Linked DNA regions of Homo sapiens. The protein of the gene in region 1 purifies or fractionates together with the protein of each later gene. This does not show direct contact. Each region holds a gene or a part of one and is shown in the gene's direction. Other genes may lie near its edges.

Region 1 (3,570 bases):
AAAATAAAAAAATCTTACTTCACCTCACTTCTACAAAACAAAATTAAAAAACATTAACTGGGTGGAGACCAGCCTGAGCAACATAGGGAGACCTCACTTCTACCAAAATAAAATAAAATAAAATAAAATAAAAAGACATTAGCTGGGCTTGGTGGTCTGTGCCTGTAGTCCCAGCTACTTGTGAGGGTGAGGCAGGAGGATCGCTTGGGCTCAGGAGGTCAAGGCTGCAGTGAGCCACGATCGCACCACTGCACTCCATCCTGAGCAAGAGTGAGACTTTGTCTCTTAAGAAAAAACCAAAATAAAACTTAAAATGGACTTAAATTTAGTTTTTTAAAGAGGCTAGGGAAATAGAAGTGGGGAAAGAAAGGGAGTAAGAATTAGGGATGGAAAAGAAAAGAGAATCAGATAAAGGATTATGCAGGCTGAGAAAGACATAGTTTTACTTGGTTTTCTTGAAAGAGCATTGTCTCCCTAAGTACTCCTTATTGTATCAATTAGAGAATCTGTGCATCTCCCAGTGGGCTCTGAGACTAGGGCATGTGCAGCAGGTGCTTCTCCAGAAAGACTGGTACTGCCCATATGCCTTCCCCATGCGGCGCTGGACTGGATGAGGAGGGCTCCTAAAGGGCACACAGAGAAGGACGGTGCTGTGTGCCGTGGGCCTCTTCCATGCTCAGCCTCTCAGAAGTGGACAGTGGAGTTGTCCACAAGCTACTTAGGCCTGACATCACAGCAGACTGAATGTAGAAGCTGATAGAAGATCCAGCTGACTTGTATTAACTCTGATATTAAAGAAATGTGTGAACATGTCAAATAATGCCATTCCTCCAGTACTTTATTTTTGTTTTGGAAAACAATTATTTTTCATAAAACTGTTAACACATGACAAGCTTATTATTTTATTTTTTATTTTTATTTTTTTGAGTCAGTCTCACTCTGTCGCCCAGGCTGGAGTGCAATGGCGTGATTTCAGCTCACTGAAACTTCCATTTCCCAGGTTCAAGCGATTCTCTTGCCTCAGCCTCCCGAGTAGCTGGGGCTACAGGTGTGTTTTATCATGCCTGGCCAATTTTTGTATTTTTAGTAGAGTCAGGGTTTCACCATGTTGGCCAGGCTGGTCTTGAACTCCTGACCTCAAGTGATCCACCCACCTTGGCTTCCCAAAGTGCTGGGATTACTGGCATGAGCCACTGCGTCTGGCCTATTTTAAGAGGAATTAATACATAAATACTTAAATCCTTTTCTCAGTTTTATTTTCCAATATGGTAAATATCTACAGGTGTAACCCACATCACAAAAAAAGCTCTTTGTGATCCTAAGTCATTTTTAAGAGCATCAAGGAGTTTTTAGACCAAAAGTTTAAGGAGCACTGAGTTAATGGATAAAGATGATAGAGATGAATACTGTGGCACACCTTCTAAGGCATGTGGCATAGCTGGAGATTATTAGGTTGTTACGTCATGAGAGAAGAACGGACTGTGTAGCGAGTTAATATGGCTGTTTTTGAGGAAGAGGGAGGACTACAACCTCAAAAGGAGCAGATGCCTATGGGGTGCATGGTCTGGAAAGGCATTCTGGTCTTGCTTTGGTGCTATTACTGTGAAATATTTTCAATCCAGGGCACTTTCTGTTATACATCTCTGTAGCTCCAGAACCTGGCGCAGTCTGCCACACAGTTTGTGCAGGAATGCCGGCCACGTGAATGGATGAACGCAGAGGCTGGCCTGTTTTACGTGTGCAGTCAGCCCTGCAGGGAAACCTTGAGTGTGGTGAGAGTGTTCTGCATTGCCTGCCTGGACATGGGCATGGGAAAGACAGGTGGCAAGTTCCCATTTGCAAAAAACTAGTGATCTTTAGGTTTGATCTTTGTTTTGGGAGAAAAATTGGCATTTCCAAATAATCCACCTGTTTAAATCATTGTTAGTTACTGCAGTTTGAGCTAATGAAGGGTCACTGACTTGACTAATGATGCTGGTTTTTGTTTTTTGTTTTCTGGTTTTTGTTTTTTGTTTTCTTAATGCCCAGCTGCCCTGGAAGGATTGTGTTCAGCTTCTGTCATCTATCACTATCCTGGTGGAACTGGTGGGAAGAGTGGAGCTCGGAGGTTCCAGGGCAGCACCCTTCCTGCTGAAGCAGCCAATAGACACCGGCCAGGTGAGCTCTGCCCTTTTTCCGGCCTCTGCTCACTTGCAGTCTTTAAATAAAGCAGACTCATTTGTTACTTTTTCCTTTGAGTTAGGACTAATATTTAAATAAACTGTAAAATCTGTTGAGTCAGTAATTTTTTTTTTTTTTTGAGACAGAGTCTTGCACTGTTGCCCGGGCTGGAGTGCAGTGGCGCAATCTCGGCTCACCACAGCCTCCACCTCCCAGGTTCAAGCAATTCTCCTCCCTCAGCCTCCTGACTAGTTGGGATTACAGGCGCCCGCCACCACACATGGCTAATTTTTTGTATTTTTAATAGAGGCGGGGTTTCACTATGTTGGCCAGGCTGGTCTCGAATGCTTGACCTCGTGATCCACCCGCCTCGGCCTCCCAAAGTGCTGGGATTACAGGCGTGAGCCACCATGCCCTGCCCAGAAATCTTGTATGAGACATTTTGTTCTGATTTTATTGAATACTTTCAATCTTACTGAATACCACTAATGGGTTAGAATGATTGGTTGATTTCTGGAATACTTGTGTAAAATTTCCTGGTAGAACAGACTTGAGGTTCTGTGTCTAAGTCTTTTTTATAATTTTATGTATTAGGAGAAGCTAGTCCCAGAGGTCAATTTTAATAAGCTGATTCAGGGCCTGGGAGCAGTTTCTTATTTTATTGGCTGATGACATTCTCTCAATGAGTTGTTTGATTTGCTTATGCTTGGTAGAACCAATGAAGAGTGAGAAAACTTCTTGGGTAGAGCAGACCCACGAATGCTGAATGAACATGAACGTTTTGGTCCTTGATGAATGAACCTGCCTTTAATGGCTCAGGATTTAGTCATCATGTTGCATAGGTCACAAAGAAGGAAGCAACAAAATAATGAAAGCAGGGATTTATTGAAAACGAAAGTACACTCCACAGTGTGGGAGTGGGCCGAGCAGCGGGCTCAAGGGCACGGATACAGAATCTTCTTGGGTCTAAATACCCACTAGAAGTTTCCCATTGGCCACTTCATGCTCACCTCTTGTAAATGAAGTGGTAGCCTGCAGTTAGTCTGATTGGTTGCGGAAAGCAGCCACTCAGAGGCTAAGGTGAAGTTACAAAGTTATGCTTCTATGCAAATGAAAAGTAGACAAAGTTATACTTCTCTGCAAACTAAGACTCCACCAGCAATCAGTCTGAGTGGTTCCGGACAGCCAGTTTCCCACCTGCCATGCAGAAAAGGTCAAAGGGAGCAGCCTCTGGTCCTTTTGTTACTTAGTCATGGAAAGTTAGGGTTTTCCTTTCAATGTAGTTGTAGGAAGTCTGTGTGAAACAACCTTAAGTTCTTTGCCTCTAGATCCTATTCTTCTGCCTCAGGCTTATCTTTTTTGTGATTGAGAAAATTTTGATTTTTTTCCTGTATCTGTAATAGATGAGAA
Region 2 (2,792 bases), on another chromosome or scaffold:
AACCAGCCTGAGCATAACTAGCTTCCTTACATCTTTACTAAGAAAAGGAAAGGCTTCTTTCTTAGTTTTTTGTTATCAGGGAGGAATGGTTTAGGTGGCAAATAATGAAAAAAACCAAAGTAGATACTAGTTTAAACACACAGGGAACTTTTTTTTATTGCTTAATGAAAAACTGGAGACAGCCCAGGGCTGGTGCAGCCAGTGTGGTATCAACATACCAGGCACCTTTTGCCTTCCTGTGTTGCTATCCTTAGCCCATTGGTTTCCTACCTTATGGCCACAAGATAGCTGCTGCAGCTCCAGATCTACCAGCTACCTTCAAGGCAGCAGAAAAGGAGAAAAAAATGGAGTCTGACCCTTTTAAAAATGTGAATAAAATATTTCCCAGGACCTCTCACCACTATACTTCAAAAGACTTCATTGACTAGAACTTTGTCAGATGGCCGCTGGTTGCTGTTCTCCTGATTGTAGGTCTCACGAGATCTGATGGTTTTATAAAGGGCATTTCCCCTGCACATGCTCTCTTGCCTGCCGCCATGTAAGAAGTGCCTCTGATCTTCCTTTGCCTTCCACCATGATTGTGAGGCCTCCCCAGCCATGTGGAATTGTGAGTCCATGAAACCTCTTTTTCTTTATAAATTACCCAGTCTCAGGTCTTTATTAGCAACATAAGAACGGACTAATACAATCCTCCCCCGAACTCCTTTCCATGGAAGGTGTCAAGAAACTAATTGAAATCAGAAGATATGGTCTGAATCCCCGCCCTGCCATGTTTTCAGCTGTGTGGTCTTGAACGGGCTGCTTGACTTCTCTGATTTCAGTTTTTGTCCATTGGTAAAATAGACAAAATGGCTACTCTTAATCTACCATTCTCACTGGGTTGTTGTGAGGACACAGATAATTAAGAAAAACATAATAAATATCCAAATTAGAAAATGGAAAAGGGGCCGTAACCCTACTCCTAACCTGGTCATTTTAACCTCCTGTGCCCTCAGTTTCTTCATCTGTATAATGGACATAGGCCTGGTGTGGTTGCAAGAAGCAGCTAAAAATCAGGAAAAAGAACATCATGTATTCAGCTATGCACACTTCCAACGTTGCTCTTTACTGAGGCCCTAGAGCTAACGATCTCTTCTTGTTATCCGACAGGCCACTGACACAGCAAAACACCAGTTGTGACTTTCTGCCAGCCATGAAGTCTGCAGAATTCGAGGGGCTTTACCAGGAATGAGTGACTGCTCAGAGGCCGGGCTTCTTTTCAAGTACTGCTGGATCATACTCACCCCTTGGGATTATGGCTTAGAAGAAGGGGGCTGGGTAGGCAAGCACTCCTTGGCTGTGTCCTCTCGCTTTTTCACTTACTTGTAGGATCCCGCAGCAGCCAATTTAGGGATTGTGTTGTTCTTGTGTTGGTTCCCATGTAAAGAAGCAGCAGAGAAATGCGATGGTTCAACAGCTCGCCCTGCCCCAAGTATGCAGACTTGACCTTGGCGGGGTCCTGGGCTTCTAGAGTCTAGCCCGTTGACCCCAAAGCCTCAGGGCTTATGTCCAACGGTCCCATTGGGAGCAACAGTGATTGTTTATAGTTTTTTGTTTTCAGAAATGAGGGCAGCTGTTAATTTTTTCACTCATGTGAAACAAAATGAAAAAAAAAATCCAAAACAGAACAAGCCCTTCTGTGGTATTTGCTTTTTATCAGAAAGAACAGCAACATTTGGCCTCTCCAAGTTGGAAAATAGAGTCCAAATGTAACTTTGTGGCCAAGAGTATTTTCAAAAAAGTCTAAAGGTGTAGTTTCCACTGTAACTGTTGAGTACTGTTAAGTACTGTTAATCTTTTACATATTTGCACTTGGTACTGTTGTATTGTTCTAAAGAGCTTGTCCTTTAAGTAATTTCTTTCTTTTTTTTTTTTTTTTTTTTTTGTGACGGAGTTTCCCTCTTGTTGCCCAGGCTGGAGTGCAATGGTGCAGTCTCGGCTCACTGCAACCTCCAACTCCCAGGTTCAAGTGAGTCTCGTGCCTCAGCCTCCCAAGTAGCTGGGATTACAGGCACCCGCCACCGTGCCCGGCTAGTTTTTTTTTGTATTTTTTTTAGTACAGATGGGGTTTCACCATGTTGGTCAGGCTAGTCTCAAACTCCTGACCTCAGGTGCTCCACCTGCCTTGGCCTCCCAAAGTGCTGGGATTACAGGCGTGAGCCACTGTGCCCAGCCTAAGCCATTTCTTAAAATAAAAATGCTAAAGGACTAGTAAGTAAAAATAAAACTTCCTATGGGATTTCCCAGTGGAATTACTGAGTGGTTTATTTGCGTGGCATTTCATTAAATATTTATTTGGGTGGGCTTTTTTTCTTTACTCTTTTTCCCTTCTGCTCCATACATCAGACCTGCCTATTCCTCTGTCGATTTCATGACTGGTGCTGGGTAATAGGGATTTTTTTAGTTGCTCGCAATAGACACCCAATTCCACATTACTTTAAAAAGAGGGGTGGTAGGGAGAAGGATTAGTTTCACTCAACCAAAAAGCCAAGGGGTAGATCTTGAGGTGCTGCTGATTCCAGGGGCTCAGGTGGTGTCATTAAGCATCTCTCACCCCTCATCTCTCAGTATAGCTTTCCTCAGTGTGAGCTGCTTTTGCAGGCAGGCCCGCCACCCCTTTCGGAGGTCCCAGGAGCTCCATCCTGGGCAAGAAAACTGCTTTTTTCCAACAGTATATACAAATATTCTGGGTTTGGCTCTGATTGGATAGACTTGGGTCATGTGAGCGACCCCAGACCAATCATGGTGGCTAG
Region 3 (3,570 bases), on another chromosome or scaffold:
ACAAAATGAAGTCTCCTATGTCTACTTCTTTCTACACAGACACAGCAACAATCTGATTTCTCTATCTTTTCCCCACCTTTCCCCCTTTTCTATTCCACAAAACCGCCATCGTCATCATGGCCCGTTCTCAATGAGCTGTTGGGTACACCTCCCAGACGGGGTGGTGGCCGGGCAGAGGAGCTCCTCACTTCCCAGAAGGGGCGGCCGGGCAGAGGCGCCTCCGACCTCCCGGACGGGGCGGCGGCCGGGCGGAGGCGCCCCCCACCTCCCTCCTGGACGGGGCGGCTGGCTGGGCGGGGGCTGAACCCCCACCTCCCGGACGGGGCGGCTGGCCGGGCAGGGGCTGACCCCCCACCTCCCTCCCGGACGGGGCGGCTGCCGGGCGGGGGCTGACCCCCCACCTCCCTCCCGGATGGGGCGGCTGGCCGGGCGGGGGCTGACCTCCCACCTCCCTCCCGGACGGGGCGGCTGCCGGGCGGAGGGGCTCCTCACTTCTCAGACGGGGCTGCCGGGCAGAGACGCTCCTCACCTCCCAGACGGGGTCGCGGCTGGACAGAGGCGCTCCCCACATCTCAGACGATGGGTGGCCGGGCAGAGACGCTCCTCACTTCCCAGACGGGGTGGCGGCCGGGCAGAGGCTGCAATCTCGTCACTTTGGGAGGCCAAGGCAGGCGGCTGGGAGGTGGAGGTTGTAGCTAGCCGAGATCATGCCACTGCACTCCAGCCTGGGCAACATTGAGCCCTGAGTGAATGAGACTCCGTCTGCAATCCCGGCACCTCGGGAGGCCGAGGCTGGCGGATCACTCACGGTTAGGAGCTGGAGACCAGCCCGGCCAACACAGCGAAACCCCGTCTCCACCAAAAAAATACGAAAACCAGTCAGGCGTGGCGGCGTGCGCCTGCAATAGCAGGCACTCGGCAGGCTGAGGCAGGAGAATCAGGCAGGGAGGTTGCAGTGAGCCAAGATGGCAGCAGTACAGTCCAGCTTTGGCTCGGCATCAGAGGGAGACCGTGGAAAGAGAGGGCGAGGGAGACCGTGGGGAGAGGGAGAGGGAGACTGTGGGGAGAGGGAGAGGGAGAGGGAGAGCCTCCAACTCTCCTCTTGCTCAGGATCCGTTTGGGGACTTGCTCTGTGTGTTCATTCCTTTGGTATTCATTTCTTCATGTGGATCCAGATTTCCAACTCGTATCATTTTTCCTTTGGCTTGAAGGACATCCTTTTACATTTTTGTTGTGCATGTTTGATGGTGATAAATTCTTTTAGCTTTTGTATGTCTGTGTTCATTTTTGGTTTTTGAAAGATATTTTCACTGAGTAAAGAATTTAAGATTGATAATTTTTTTTTTTTTGTTACTGTAAAGATGTTGCTTCAGTGTTTTCAAGCATGTACATTGTTTCTCACAAGAAGTCTGCTGTTACCCTTACCTTTGTTCCTCTGCGTATTAGGTCTTTTCTCTCTGGCTGCTTATGAGAGTCCTCTCTCACTGGCATAAGCAATGTGATTGTGATTTGCTTTGGTGTAGTTTCTTCAGCTTTCTTATGTTTGGGATTTATTGAGCTTCTTGAAGCTGTAGGTTGTTAGTTTTCATAAAATTTGGGAAATTTTGGCCTTTATATCTTCAAAAAGTTTTCCATTCTTCCTCTCTCTCTCCTTTCCTCTGGATTCCTATTACATGTACATTAGACTGCTTAAACTTATCTCACAGCTTGCTGGTGTTACAGTCTTTCATTTAAAAATCTTTTTTTCCTCACTGTGTTTCATTGTGGGTAGTTTCTATTGCTATGTCTTCAAAGTCACTACTCTTTTCTTCTGAAATATCTAATCTGTTAATCCCATACAGTATGTTTTTAAACTAGACATTGTAGTTTTCATCTCTGAAAGTTTGATTTGGATCTTTTTTATACTTTGCTTGCTCTGCTTAATATGTTGGGATGCAGTTTAATAAATGTTTTGTTTCTAATTATTTCATCTCTTCAGATAATAAGCTGGGGCAGATCTGGGGTGCACATTTTGTTTTTCATTTCTAGGGGATCACTGTCTTTTATTGCCTAATATCAAATGCTTCAAATTGTTGATCCATATATTTTTTCAGAGTTTTAGTTGTGTCAGATGGGTGGTAAATCTAATCCCTGTTCCTCTATCTTAATTGGAAGTGAAAGTTCTACTTACTCATTTATATTACTTCATTGTCTACCCCATTCAAGTAATCCACATAGAAAAACCTGCATTTATACACACATGCTTCAGTACTTCTGAGATTCATGAGGATAAGGATTGCATATGTTTGTGCTCATGATTATATCTTGAGCATATAATGGGTTTTCAATACATTTTGTTGATTAAATGAATATATACATGTATATGCGGTTATACAAGTGTTTGTATACACACATGCCTGATATATTAGGGTGATGCTTATAAGTAACCCCCAAATTTTCGTGACTTTACCTAATAGAAGTTCATTTTTATTCATTTAACACTCTGAAGCAGATGTTCATAGTTGGTAGGCAGTTCTCTGTGAAATAATTCAGAGATCTGTTTCTCTTCTGTTTGGGGCCTTTGTAATTTCTTAGGGTTTTATTGTTATTTGTATCTAACCAATGAGACAAAAGGGAAAGACAGCTTAGAGAAGGTACAGCTTCTTCTAAAAAACCTTGGCTTAGATATGATACACATCACTTTTGCTCACATTCTATTGGTGTGAACCTTTCATGCCAATACCTAGATGTATGGTGGGCTGGGTAATGTAATCCCTGGATGGACAACCACTTCCCAGCAACAAATCCATACTGTGTGTGTAGGGGGACCAATCATGTGGTCACTTATTTTCAGGTGCAGGGATGCCAGAGATTATGATGTAGTCATTTAGCTGTTTGGCCTTCCATAGGATATTTCTGAAGAGCAGCTTTTAGTGGAATTCTCAGGAGGAAATTGGGCTTTAGTGCATTCTTATTAAGTATAGATCCTTGCACTCTACTCCAGATCTGCTGAAATCAAATTATTGTGTTGAGGTTTGGGAATATGCATTTTCATCAAACTTGTTGATTCTTACATTCACTAAAAGGTGAAATCTGCTGTAAGAGGTTATTTTAAACTTTTATTTTTCTTAAAAGAAAATGAGCTGGGCGAAGTGGCTCACGCCTGTAGTCCCAGCACTTTGGGAGGCCGAGGCGGGCAGATCACCAGGTTAGGAGATCGAGACCATCCTGGCTAACACGGTGAAACCGCTTCTCTACTAAAAATACAAAAAATTAGCCAGGTGTGGTGGCAGACGCCTGTAGTCCCAGCTGCTTGGGAGGCTGAGGCAGGAGACTGGCGTGAACCCAGGAGGTGGAGCTTGCAGTGAGCTGAGATTGCGCCACTGCACTCCAGCCTAGGCAACAGAGGGAGACTCCGTCTCAAAAAAAAAAAAAAAAAAAAAAAGAAAAAAGAGAAAAAGAGAAAAAGAAAAAGAAAATGAAATGACTTAGAAAATAAAGCCCAGTAGGATAGCTTGCAAAGAGAGTCATTGAAAATCACATACTTGCACTAACCCTATTCAGTATTGGTTCTACTAACTGTAGCCAAAG
Region 4 (3,570 bases), on another chromosome or scaffold:
CCCCACAAGGCAAAAATGAGAGCCTGTTGGGAAAATGGTGAGGTCAGCCAGCCACACCTCCAGCCTATGTGCTTGGGACCAGCAGGAGAGAGAGTTAGTCTTTCACTGTGGCCAGAGGCCCAGACCACACTGGTGGATGAAGCTCGGCCCCCATGGGAGGGCCGGCAGCCTGGTTCTCCTCGGTCAGGGCATAGGCAATTGCAAGAGTCCTCTGTCCTGTCCTGTGCTGTCACCTCTTGCCCTTGGCCTGCAGTGAGCAGCCCCCAGCCCAGCCTGAGTGACTATGGCCATCCTGTCCTACCTGAGGACTTGGGCCATGATGATTAAGGTGGGGACACATATCCATCACTCCATCAACAGTGTCTGTGCCAGACAGGGCTCTCAATACCCTTGTTCGGGGAAGTCTTCTTGGCAAGGGTCCACAGGCCTCCAGTTTAAGCTGTGGGACCCAGAGCCCAGGCAGGCTTCGTGAGTGTCTCAGCCAAACATGGCTGTGGATTGAACATGATTCACCCAGCACCAGGTCAGGACTGCTCTTAGAGCTCTTGATTCTTAGAGCACCTCCTGCAGGATTTCAGCTCCTATCCCTCAGGTGCAGAAGCAGGTTCAGAAAATTTCAGTAGCATTCTCAGGGGCTCATGTGTACCCCAGGTCAGAGGCTGACATGGACCCCAGGCTTGCCCCATCTGGCCTGTTCTCTCTGCCACAGCTCCCCCTGCCCAGGCCCTGCCTTCTGGAAAGGGGGTTTCTGGGCCTGCGCAGAGTCTGAGAAGCCAGTTCGGGCCAGAATTGGGTCAGATTTCCCTACTGCAGCCAAAGAGGAGCCTCCGAGTCTCCCTGGGCCCAGCAGCGCTTTATCTTGAAGCAGATGCGCCGATTCCAACACTCACACTCCGCACCCACCTGCCCTTCCCCTGCAGCGGGGAAGCTTTGGGCCTGGGCTTGAAGACCTGGCCACCTGTCCCAGCACTGTCACTGACCAGCTGCGTGACCCCTGACAAGTCCCTTCACTCTGTGAGCCTCCGTCCCCTCATCTGTAGAATGGGACAATACCACGAGTGCTGTTGAGAGAGTTTTATGTTTGTTTGTTTGTTTTGAGACAGAGTTTCGCTCTGTCACCCAGGCTGGAGTGCAGTGGCACAATCTTGGCCCGGCTAATTTTTGTATTTTTAGCAGAGATGGGGTTTCACCATGTTGACCAGGCTGGTCTCGAACTCTTGACCTCAGGTGATCCACCTGCCTCAGCCTCCCAAAGTGCTGGGATTACAGGCGTGAGCCACTGCACCCAGCTGCTGTTGAGAGAATTTTAAAGGAGACAGCGTGGTCAGAGACCTGTGGAAGAGTCTGGCAGAGTGAGTCCCCAGGGCACAGACCCCAGCCCAGGGCTCCGCCATAGCTCTCAGGCTGCGGGGAACCCTTGCCAACAAGACTTCCCCAAACAGGAGTATTAGGAGAGAGCCCTGTCTGGCATAGACACTGTTGATGGAGTGATGGATATGTGTCCCCACCTTAATCCTCAAGACCCACATCCCTGCCAGGCAGGACCCAGCTTGAGGAGCCTTGAGGCCACACTCTGGGCCGGTTCCAGAGCAGAGGGCAGGTGGGGCTGGGCAGCTGGACCGGGCTGTGTGAAGGGACTCATTGCTGGAAGTGGGCTCCTTGCAGGAGTCTCTGGGGGCCCATTTTCTGTGTGTTAACCAAGGGAGAAACTGAGGCTCAGGGGCTGCTTGGTGACCTTCCCAAGGTCCTGAGGACAGGGAGGGGAGACTGGTCCACAGACTTGCCTCTCACTCCTCCCTCTGCCTCAGCCGTCCTGAGTCCCACTTTCTCCTTGGCCTTGCCTTCCCCCTCTGGTGCAGCCTCCCTGAGCCCCTCCCCCCAACTTCCCTCACTGATATCAGTGGCCCGCCCAGCCCCCCATCCCCAGCCCTGGTTGCTGCGGCTCAGAAGCTGCTGGCTCAGGAGCCTCCAGCTTTTGCTGAGTGAGCGAGTCCAGAGGTGCTGTCTTGGCACAAAACACCGCTGGCCGGGCCCTCGCCCTCCCTTCCCTCTCCAGGGTCCACTTTGGAGTGGAGAGTGTGGGTGGGGGCGGAATGAGGCCTCACACCACCTCCAGGGTCTTCAGCTTCAGGGAAGGGAGGGTCCTGAGGCCCAGAGAAGGGGGTGTTTGCCTGAGGTCACAAGGCAGGCCAGGGGAGAGCTGGGACTGCTCCCCACCAAGTCCAGGGGGACAGGAAGTGGGTCTGTCTTGTCCAAGCTGTTTGCAGAATCTTCCTGCCTCAGCCCTGCCTGCCCTGGCCTCATCCTTCCTCTCTGGTCCACCCTGAAAGGGGCAGAATTCGCATTAACTGTATCAGTGAAGGCAGCTCCTGCTTGAGTGCATCCGAGGTGTCAAGGTTTTACCCACACCTCCTCTGATCATTCAGTGACCTTTGAGGTAGGGCCATTGGAATAGGCTTCACTTAATACAAGTGGGACTCAACCCTGATGCATTTACAGTCACCTGTTAGACAAAGACGCTGACCACCTACTGTGTGCTGAGCACCTACTGCATGTGCCAAACACAGCCCTCAGCCCTGGGCTGGAAGGGGTGGTTGACAAAGAGTAATAAGCCTCTTGCCCCAAGAGACTTTGTGCTTGGACATTTGCCCTTGTAACAACACTGATGATAGCTGGTAGGGTCCCAGTTTTCAGATGGAAAGGCTGAGGCTCAAGTGGCAGGCACATTGCCCCGGGGCGGTTTCTGGACTCAGCTCTCCAGGCCTCAGGACCCCACCCTGAACCTGCTGATACCCTTGTTTGTCTCCAGCCCACCCCAGCCAGACCAGGGCCTCCCGCCGCCCCTTGCAGCTGTCCCGGTCCCCTGGAAGAGCACGGACCCCTGCCAAGGCCACAGGGAGTCCCCAGGAGCCCTGGTGGAGACCTCTGCAGGGGAGGAGGCCCAAGGCCAGGAGGGCCCCGCAGCCGCCCAGCTGGACGTGTTGCGCCTGCGCAGCTCTTCCATGGAGATCCGAGAGAAGGGCTCCGAGTTCCTGAAGGAGGAGCTGCACAGAGCGCAGAAGGTGGGTGCCTGCAGTAGGCTGGGGGGTCTTCGGTGGGGAGAAGTCAGGTTGGGAGAGCTGTGGGCTCTCATCAGGTGCCCAGAGATGTGCCCAAGGGAGAGGGATGTGCCCTCACCGAGGCCAGCTGCTGGCCAGGCCTGTACTGGGCGCACCGATGGTCACCCGTCTTGACTGCAAACGTGCCCTGAGCTCTGATGAACTGGCAGGCAGGGCTTCAGCTTCATGCTGTGGCTAAACGGAAAAAGCATCACAAACTGTCAGGCACCAGAGGAAATAAACTCTGAGCCCCACATAAAATGACGAGGGGATGGAACCTGGTCCGGTGGGCCTGGTCCCTCCCGTGCCAGGCCTGGGGATGCTGAGGTGCTCAAGTGCCTGCCTCTTTTCCTCCAGGAGCTGAAGCTAAAGGACGAGGAATGTGAGCGGCTGTCCAAGGTGCGGGAGCAGCTAGAACAGGAGCTGGAAGAGCTGACGGCCAGCCTGTTTGAGGTACACCGGCTGGGCGCGG
Region 5 (3,900 bases), on another chromosome or scaffold:
TGGGATTACAGGCGTGAGCCACTGTCAGGCCCTCTTTTGAGGAAAGCCCAGTAACACTCCTATTCCTTCTTTTTGTTAGATTTGTTCTGGAGGCGCTTCTCTTTTACAATCATGCTCTCTCCAGCTTCTGTTTCTCCTTCCTGCCTCCAAAGACACAGGCTTTTTGTTTTAAGGATTTTATACCTGATTACCAAGGGAAAATTGAATATAACAAAAAGAAGTAAACAGTTCAATACAGTAAATGCCTGGTTTCTTTTGTGCTCAGAATAGGGCTTAAGTCCCAGCCCTCACCCTTGGGACTTCATTTAGGAAATACTACCTCAAATACCTTTTTTCTACATTGAGAATACAATCTAGGCAGGATAATGTTACGTCATTTCTGTCCCGGAACTTCAGGGTATTTCCTGTTTCAGATGTTTTTTGACTACAGAAATAAAATCAGGTATTCATTAAATATTCATGTATTTTTTTCATGTTAGTGTCACTATGTAGATTCACTGCTCTGTCAGTGTTAACTGTTAGTTTCTTGTTTATTTGTTTGTTTTTCATAAATTGAGATGGAGTCTTGCTTTGTTGCCAGGGCTGGTCTCAAACTCTGGGGCTCAAGCGATCCTTCTGCCTCCCAAAGTGCTGGGATTACAGGTGTAATCATGCCCAGCCAACTGTTAGATATTCTTAACAGAAAGTAAGCAGAAATGCTCTAAGGAGACAGTGATTAATGATTCATAGGCTTATTGGGATATAATACCTAGCAATATTGAGCAATTACTATGCCAAGCCTGAATTTTTACAACAGTCCTCCATTTTATCAATAAGGTCAAGATCAGAGTTAGTGGGCGGTGGAGTTATCTTGCAAACCCAGGTCTGTCTGGTGGCAAAGTTTGTGTGCCCTTAGTCACTATGTTTTACTAACATAATTAAAAGACCTTTTTTTGGTCCATGTTTATAAGTAGATAATTTGTACAGTAGATTTTCCAAAATATTAAAGTGAAATTTTTCTTAATATCTTTTGACTTATTGTGTGTTTATCCCAATATTAAGAAATTCCCCCAAAACTTAATTCTTTAAGGCTCAGCATAGAAGACAGTGAACTTCCTAATGAGACTTTCTTACAGACCTGTGCTGTCCAGCACAGTAGCCACTAGGTCATGTGGCTACTGAGCATTGATTTTTTTTTTATCTTTAATAAAATGATCAGTTTAACATTTTCTTGCTATTCGTCATGTTTATAACCTAATACTTTTTGGAAGATTTCAAAATATTTTGGCCTATGTAAAGTAAATCTCCTAAAATACCAGACCTTAAGAACAAGACCAAAAGTAAGTTATAAGGAGTGTGTCTGTGTTTGTATTTTTAAAATAAATTCTTCTTTTCCTTCTTGAAAGATAAAAAATTTTAAGACTTTTTAGATAATTTTCTTTAGGTGAAAAATGGGAGAAAAACTGTGGAAAGAGATGCTCTTGGAGGAAATTCCTTTAAATTTAACAAATACTTTCACAAATTGTAAATATTAAAATGCACAGATTTCATCGAGTACATGAAGTACTTAGATGAGACAAAATTTAAAATGTATATTTGTTAAAAATACAAAATAGAAGATTACAAAATCTTATATGAGTTTGCCTTTAAAACAAATTTGTTTTCTGAAAAAAACTTAATTTTTTCTAAGCTATTGATGCTCTTTGATCTCTCTTTTTTCTCTAAAGCACAATGAAGAATTTTGGCAGTATAATACCTTCCAGTACTGGAGGAATCCTTTGCCTCCTATTGATCTGGCAGACATTGAAGATTTAAGTGAAGACACCCTGACAGAAGCAACACTTCAGGGCAGGAATGAAGGGGCTGAGGTTGACATGGAGTCCTGATGTAAGGAGCCGAAGCAGTGGGATTGGCTGATTTGAGGAGATGTCTCTAAGTGAATTCTCGTATTCTTAAGGGAAAAGTTATTTTCCATACTTGAAGTTATATTTCCAAACCTGAGAAATGAAGAAAGATTGTTCTGACATTAAATACCTACAGTTACTACTGAACCTCTTAATAAGGATTTGTCAAGGATAGAGTACAGTTGTAGGGGAAGTATTTTATGTATGCATTCTTAGAGCAAAAAGTTTTGTTTAAATTCTAGAATTGAAGGTACTGATCTTATAAAAAGAAATTCTAGCAGTTTTAGAAATAGGTGGGAAAAACTCAAATATTCCTCCTATCTGCACCAAAAAGTTTATTTGTGGTATATAAAATGAATATTGTTTTATAATAACTTGTTAATAAAGTACTTTCTAATACATTCTATTGACTCTGTTAGTTGAACAAATAGCTGACTTGAACATCTATGCAAACTTAAGATGGGCGGGATTGTTGTAAAAGCTATTGTTTTAAAAGAGCTTTCTAAATGTAAAGTAGTGATAATTTCAATTTGGGTAGCGTGTTTGCAAAGCTTCCAATATTTGATGTTGGTTAAGCTCTACTATGGGCAACTGAAGATGGATAAAGAAAAATGAAAACTGAATCGGTGCCTGCTTCCCCCTGTTTTCCCAGGATTAGAGGAAAAAATTTATTGTATAATCAGCTTCTTGGTTTTGAATTGCTTCGAGGCATGGTTTTATTCCTTATTACTTTAGACCTGTAGTTTTCAACACTGACAGCACTTTAAAAATCTTTGCCTGGGCCTCACTCTTGAGAGATTCTCATTTAATAGTTCTGAGGTGGGTCTTGGATATAACTATTTTTTTAAACACCTGTCCTGTTTCCCTCCATTCCTCTCATGTGCAGACAGGGTTGAGAACCAGTAGACTAATGGTCGTTTTTCCTGTTTAAAGGAGATAACTAATTTGAGCTGAAGCAATGCTTCTTAATTAGCTTTGTTTTTGTTTTGCTCTGTTGGTGGCTTTGTTACAACTGAATTATTGTGTTATTACTATTTCATTGTTAAAGAAATAAAGTAAGCAATTTGTGATGTGAGTATCAGTGATTAAGTTAACTAACTTTTGTACTGCATCCAGAATGTTGGTTTTGCAATTGAGTAACTGGTTCTTGCTTGCATTTTTTGTTGTTGATGACATTAGATCCAAAATTCAAGACAAATGGTAAATGCCATTGAGAGGGAAAGAGAAAAACTTGATTTTTTTTGTGTAATGAAGGATTTAAGAATGGGTTGACATTAATAAGAATGCTTTAGAACAGAAGACAAACTGTATTGCATTGTGGTCAGACATGGTTCAAAGTCTTGTACTGCCACTTCCTACCTATGTATCTTTAAGCCAGTTATTTTTCATCTCCAAGCCTCAAATTTCTCACCTGTAAAATGAGAAATAATAAATAGTATCTACCTCAGAGAGACTGTTTATTGTCAAGCAATGTTATAAGTACTTTACTTGCATCATCTTGTTTAGTTCTCATAATAACCTTAAGGTAGGTTAAAAAAAATCATTAGAATAAACATGCTGCCTATAGTTAAAGTTTTAACTGCCTCTAGAAGTTTCAGGATAGAAATTGGAATTGAAACTTTCAGCTTATGATATTTTCAACTTACGATGGGTTTATCAGGACATAACCCCATGGTTAGTTAAATGTACTAAATTTATATCACTTTCACACTGTGGTAAAGCTGAAAAATCCTGTCAAACCATCAAGTCAGGGGCAGTCTATATATAGAAAACAGAAAGAGTTAAAATAATTCCGTCCTTTAAAAAAGTTGTTTACTAAGTAAACTTGAGGTAACAGCAAAATTTCATTGTGGATAAATTGAGGTAAAATGTGGGTTTTTAAATGTGTTATAACCCTTCACCCCAATTCCCTAATGTAACATCTTAAATTACCACAGTACACTTATGAAAATCAGGAAATTAACATTGATAAAATTCTCTTGTGTGATTTTGAGGACATGGAAAGAATGACTTCAGA
Region 6 (3,639 bases), on another chromosome or scaffold:
AAAAAAAAAAAAAAAAAGCTAAGAAATGTGTGTACACATAAAATCTTGTGTATGACTGTTCATAGCAGCATTATTTATAATGGCCAAAGAGTGGGAACAACCTAGATAGCCATCGACTGATGAATAGATGAATAAAATGTGATATATTCATGCAATAGAATATTATTCAGCTATAAAAAGAAATGATACATACTACAACATGGGTGAACCTTGAAAATATTATGCTAAGTGTGAGGAGACAGTCACAAAAGACCACGAATTATATGATTTCATTTATATGAAATGTCCAGAATAGGCAAATCTATAGAGATAGAAGGTACATTAGTGGTTGACTAGGTCCCCAGAGGGTAGGGTACGAGGAGTGACTGCTAATGATATGGGATTTCTTTTCAGGGTGATGAAATATTTTAAAACTTAGATCGTGATGAAGGTTACAGAGTTCTGTGTATATACTAAAAACCACCTATTAAAAAAAAAAGAATGGCCAAGCGCGGTGGCTCTCGCCTGTAATCCCAGCACTTTGGGAGGCTGAGGCGGGTGGATCACTTGAGGTCAGGAGTTCGAGACCAGCCTGGTCAACATGGTGACAACCCCGTCACTACTAAAAATACAAAAATTAGCCAGGCATAATGGCGGATGCCTGTAATCCCAGCTACTTGGGAGGCCGAGGCAGGAGAATTGCTTGAACCTGGGAGGTGGAAGTTGCAGTGAGCCAAGATCATGCCCTTGCACTTCAGCCTAGGTGACATGGTGAGACTCTATCACACACAAAAAATACATAAATAAATAAATAATTAAAATTAAAAAATTTTTAAAAAGAAAAAGATATTTAAAAATAGCTACTTAAATGTCTGTGATGAGACAGGTTAAGTGCCAATTGAGTGGTACACACAGGCCAAGAAGGAGGCGTGCATGACCGTGTGGTAGTTCACAGGCCTTTGGAAGTGCCTGTGGGCTGAGCTCCTCAGGCATTTTGTTTCCAGAGATGCCTGCCATGAAAATGCATGCTTTATTTAACAAATTAGATTTAAAGCATCATCTAGATGTAATCTGTCTTAAAATTTTGTGAGGTTTAAGAAGTGAGTAATATAGTGGGTCTATGGTTTTCTGACCCACTGGAACTACCTATAAACCAAAAAAACGTTAGTGTCTGCTAGCATGCAACATGAATTCTGGACTAAATAGAGGATATTCTTTTATGATTGTACTAACGTATGACTTACCCTCTCTGAATCTGTTTTAATATCAATAAAGTGAGAGGACTGACTATGCAGCCATTCACTCATTTAGTGGATCTTTTAAATGAAAGACTACACATCAGGATTAAATGATCTCTTCCTTAATTTCCCAGACTCCTTGGAACCTAAAATTCTAGATAAGGATATTTTGAGTATTGAGATCTGCAAAAGCAGATTATCTCAAAACCACAAATTATTCTCTCTTAAACTTCACACAGGTGAGCTGGTCGCGATTAAATACTGAAAATGTGTTTTTTCTTAATAGGGAGAAGTAGAAGCCAAGGTTGAAGAATTAAAATTTGATCGTTACTCTGTATTTAGGCCTGGGTAAGTATAATATTTATACTGAATGAGAGTATGCCACTGATGGTTAATCCCTAGATACTAATTTTTCATTTGGAAAGGCTGACAGCTGAAATATCTAAGATATGAAAGACATTGGCTAGAGGTAGATTGCTTCTCTGAAGGACACACCTTTTTGCTTAGAAAGAAAGGGTAGATGGTGGGGCCTGCTTCAGAATAGTCTGGAACTTCCTGGACAGCATTTGCTGCCTTCTTAAATCCTCTTCATGTGCCAAATAAAACCTTACGTCTACTGTATTAGTCTGCTTGGGTTGCCATAACAGAATACCACACAGATTGGGTGTCTTAAACAACAGAAATTTTTTTTCACGCAGTCTGGAGATTGGAAGTCCAAGATCAAGGTGCCCTCAGGGTTGGTGTCCGGTGAGGCCTCTTTTCCTGGCTGGCAGACAGACCACCTTCTGGCAGTGTCCTCACATGGCCTTTCTTCTTAGTGTATGCAGACAGAGAGAGACCTCTGATGTCTCTTCCTCTTATGAGGACCCCAGTCCCATCACACTAGTCCTATTCCATCCTTAAGACCTCATTAAACTTAATTACTTCCCTTAATGCCTTATCTTCAAATATAGACACCTTGGGGATTAGGGCTTCAACATTAGAATATTGAGGGGATACAGTTTTGTCCGTAATGCCCACTGTGGTCTCAGTGCAATTTACCACCTCTTCCTCTGCTTTTCTTTCTTTTTTTTTTTTTTTTATTTTAGAGTTCTGTTATGTGATAGGCAAGAATCTCGCCCAGGTGAATGGCTGGTTAGAAAGTTCTTTGGCTCCTTACCAGACTCTTGGGCCAGTGGGCATTCTGTGCCTGTGGTGACCGTGGTTAGAGCAATGCTGAACAATGTGGTGAGACCAAGAGACAAGCAGATGGAACTGCTGGAGAACAAGGCCATCCATGACCTGGGGAAAGCGCATGGCTCTCTCAAGCCATGACCACATTGGAGAAATGGTTTTTATTGTCAACCTTAACACCCATCACCAAATCGGTAATTTCAGGGTCTAAAAAAAGTCAGCATGTTTTAACTTTGTTGTTTTACTATCCTCAGGCATCCATTCCAATCAAGAAATGATGGTGCTCTGCATCAGTGGTTCAGAGCCTGGTTATACATATAGATCACTCAGGGAGCTTTGGAAAAATAAAGATTTGTCAGCCCTATCTCAAACTTGAATCAAAATTTCTGGGGTGTGGGCACAATAATCTGTAATTTTCTTTGTTTATACTTCCCCTGATGCCACTGGTTCCGATGCCACTGGCTGGGGGGCCTGCTTTGAAATGCTTGTCTGCAGAGTCACAGCAGCCATGAAAACCTTATGACCGTGCAAATGAGCTCTGCTCTAAAATTGTTGACATTCATGTCTCTGAGTTACAAAAGTGCTAATTCACTACATGTAATTGTGTAAGTAAACATTGTGCCTTTACTACTTCTTTATGTAATAGAAGTTATATACCTAAGCTTATATAATACATGGGGAGGATTAAATAAAGGAATAAAGATGAATGGACAACTCCTGGGTGCCTCTTAGATTGCTTGAAAATGCCCATGTAGTGTGATATGCAGCATTTCAGCCTATGGGGTGATATAATAGCAGCTAATATTTACCAAATGCTTGCTAAGTACCAGTCTTTACATGTGTTATCTGTGCTTTAACCCTCTTATAAACAATCCTTATAAAGTGATACTATCATGATCTTCATGTCTTAGATGGGGAAATGAGGCTCACTGTGGTTAAGTGCCTTGCTCAAGAGTCCAAATCTGAAGAACTGAAGCAAAGAAATGGCAGAGTCAGGATTCTAACCCAGGTCTGCCTGATCCCATAGATCCCATATATCGTGTTTTTAAGCACCCTGCAAAAGCATTCTGTTCCCGTATATTTCCAGGTAGTTCCAGTTGATTGTTACTACATGTTGTGGATGAACAAAATCGAAATATTTGGGTTTCTCCTTTGTTCTAGTGATTAATTACTAAATGTTCACATAGCCAGTAAAATTCTATGCCACCAAACTTTAAAGTGCTCATGCTGCTGCACTTTAAAAATTAAG

What was found.
Region 2: the proteins of TRAPPC9 (region 1) and LDAF1 purify together in Homo sapiens (co-immunoprecipitation; one large-scale study listed by IntAct). This does not show direct contact.
Region 3: the proteins of TRAPPC9 (region 1) and RAB3IP purify together in Homo sapiens (tandem affinity purification; 2 studies listed by BioGRID and IntAct, with this or other methods). This does not show direct contact.
Region 4: the proteins of TRAPPC9 (region 1) and RAB3IL1 purify together in Homo sapiens (affinity purification with mass spectrometry, with the first as the bait; one large-scale study listed by BioGRID). This does not show direct contact.
Region 5: the proteins of TRAPPC9 (region 1) and C9orf40 purify together in Homo sapiens (co-immunoprecipitation; one large-scale study listed by IntAct). This does not show direct contact.
Region 6: the proteins of TRAPPC9 (region 1) and HTATIP2 fractionate together in Homo sapiens (co-fractionation; one large-scale study listed by BioGRID). This does not show direct contact.

What each region holds. Positions count from the first base shown.
Region 1 is NC_000008.11:140,433,699-140,437,268, reverse strand, and holds part of TRAPPC9 (trafficking protein particle complex subunit 9), read left to right. Parts: intron 1-2,028; coding exon 2,029-2,157; intron 2,158-3,570. UniProt on the Homo sapiens protein: Functions as an activator of NF-kappa-B through increased phosphorylation of the IKK complex. May function in neuronal cells differentiation. May play a role in vesicular transport from endoplasmic reticulum to Golgi.
Region 2 is NC_000016.10:21,178,326-21,181,117, forward strand, and holds the end of LDAF1 (lipid droplet assembly factor 1), read left to right. Parts: exon of another isoform or gene 1-471; coding exon of another isoform or gene 472-487; exon of another isoform or gene 488-607; intron 608-1,149; coding exon 1,150-1,231; 3' UTR 1,232-2,291; downstream 2,292-2,792. UniProt on the Homo sapiens protein: Plays an important role in the formation of lipid droplets (LD) which are storage organelles at the center of lipid and energy homeostasis. In association with BSCL2/seipin, defines the sites of LD formation in the endoplasmic reticulum.
Region 3 is NC_000012.12:69,759,356-69,762,925, forward strand, and holds part of RAB3IP (rab-3A-interacting protein isoform alpha 1), read left to right. Parts: intron 1-3,570. UniProt on the Homo sapiens protein: Guanine nucleotide exchange factor (GEF) which may activate RAB8A and RAB8B. Promotes the exchange of GDP to GTP, converting inactive GDP-bound Rab proteins into their active GTP-bound form.
Region 4 is NC_000011.10:61,907,546-61,911,115, reverse strand, and holds part of RAB3IL1 (guanine nucleotide exchange factor for Rab-3A), read left to right. Parts: intron 1-2,809; coding exon 2,810-3,062; intron 3,063-3,455; coding exon 3,456-3,551; intron 3,552-3,570. UniProt on the Homo sapiens protein: Guanine nucleotide exchange factor (GEF) which may activate RAB3A, a GTPase that regulates synaptic vesicle exocytosis. Promotes the exchange of GDP to GTP, converting inactive GDP-bound Rab proteins into their active GTP-bound form.
Region 5 is NC_000009.12:74,946,013-74,949,912, reverse strand, and holds the end of C9orf40 (uncharacterized protein C9orf40), read left to right. Parts: intron 1-1,706; coding exon 1,707-1,865; 3' UTR 1,866-3,330; downstream 3,331-3,900.
Region 6 is NC_000011.10:20,380,675-20,384,313, forward strand, and holds the end of HTATIP2 (protein HTATIP2), read left to right. Parts: intron 1-1,503; coding exon 1,504-1,565; intron 1,566-2,305; coding exon 2,306-2,531; 3' UTR 2,532-3,108; downstream 3,109-3,639. UniProt on the Homo sapiens protein: Represses translation by preventing reactivation of elongation factor eEF1A. May also inhibit nuclear import by competing with nuclear import substrates for binding to a subset of nuclear transport receptors.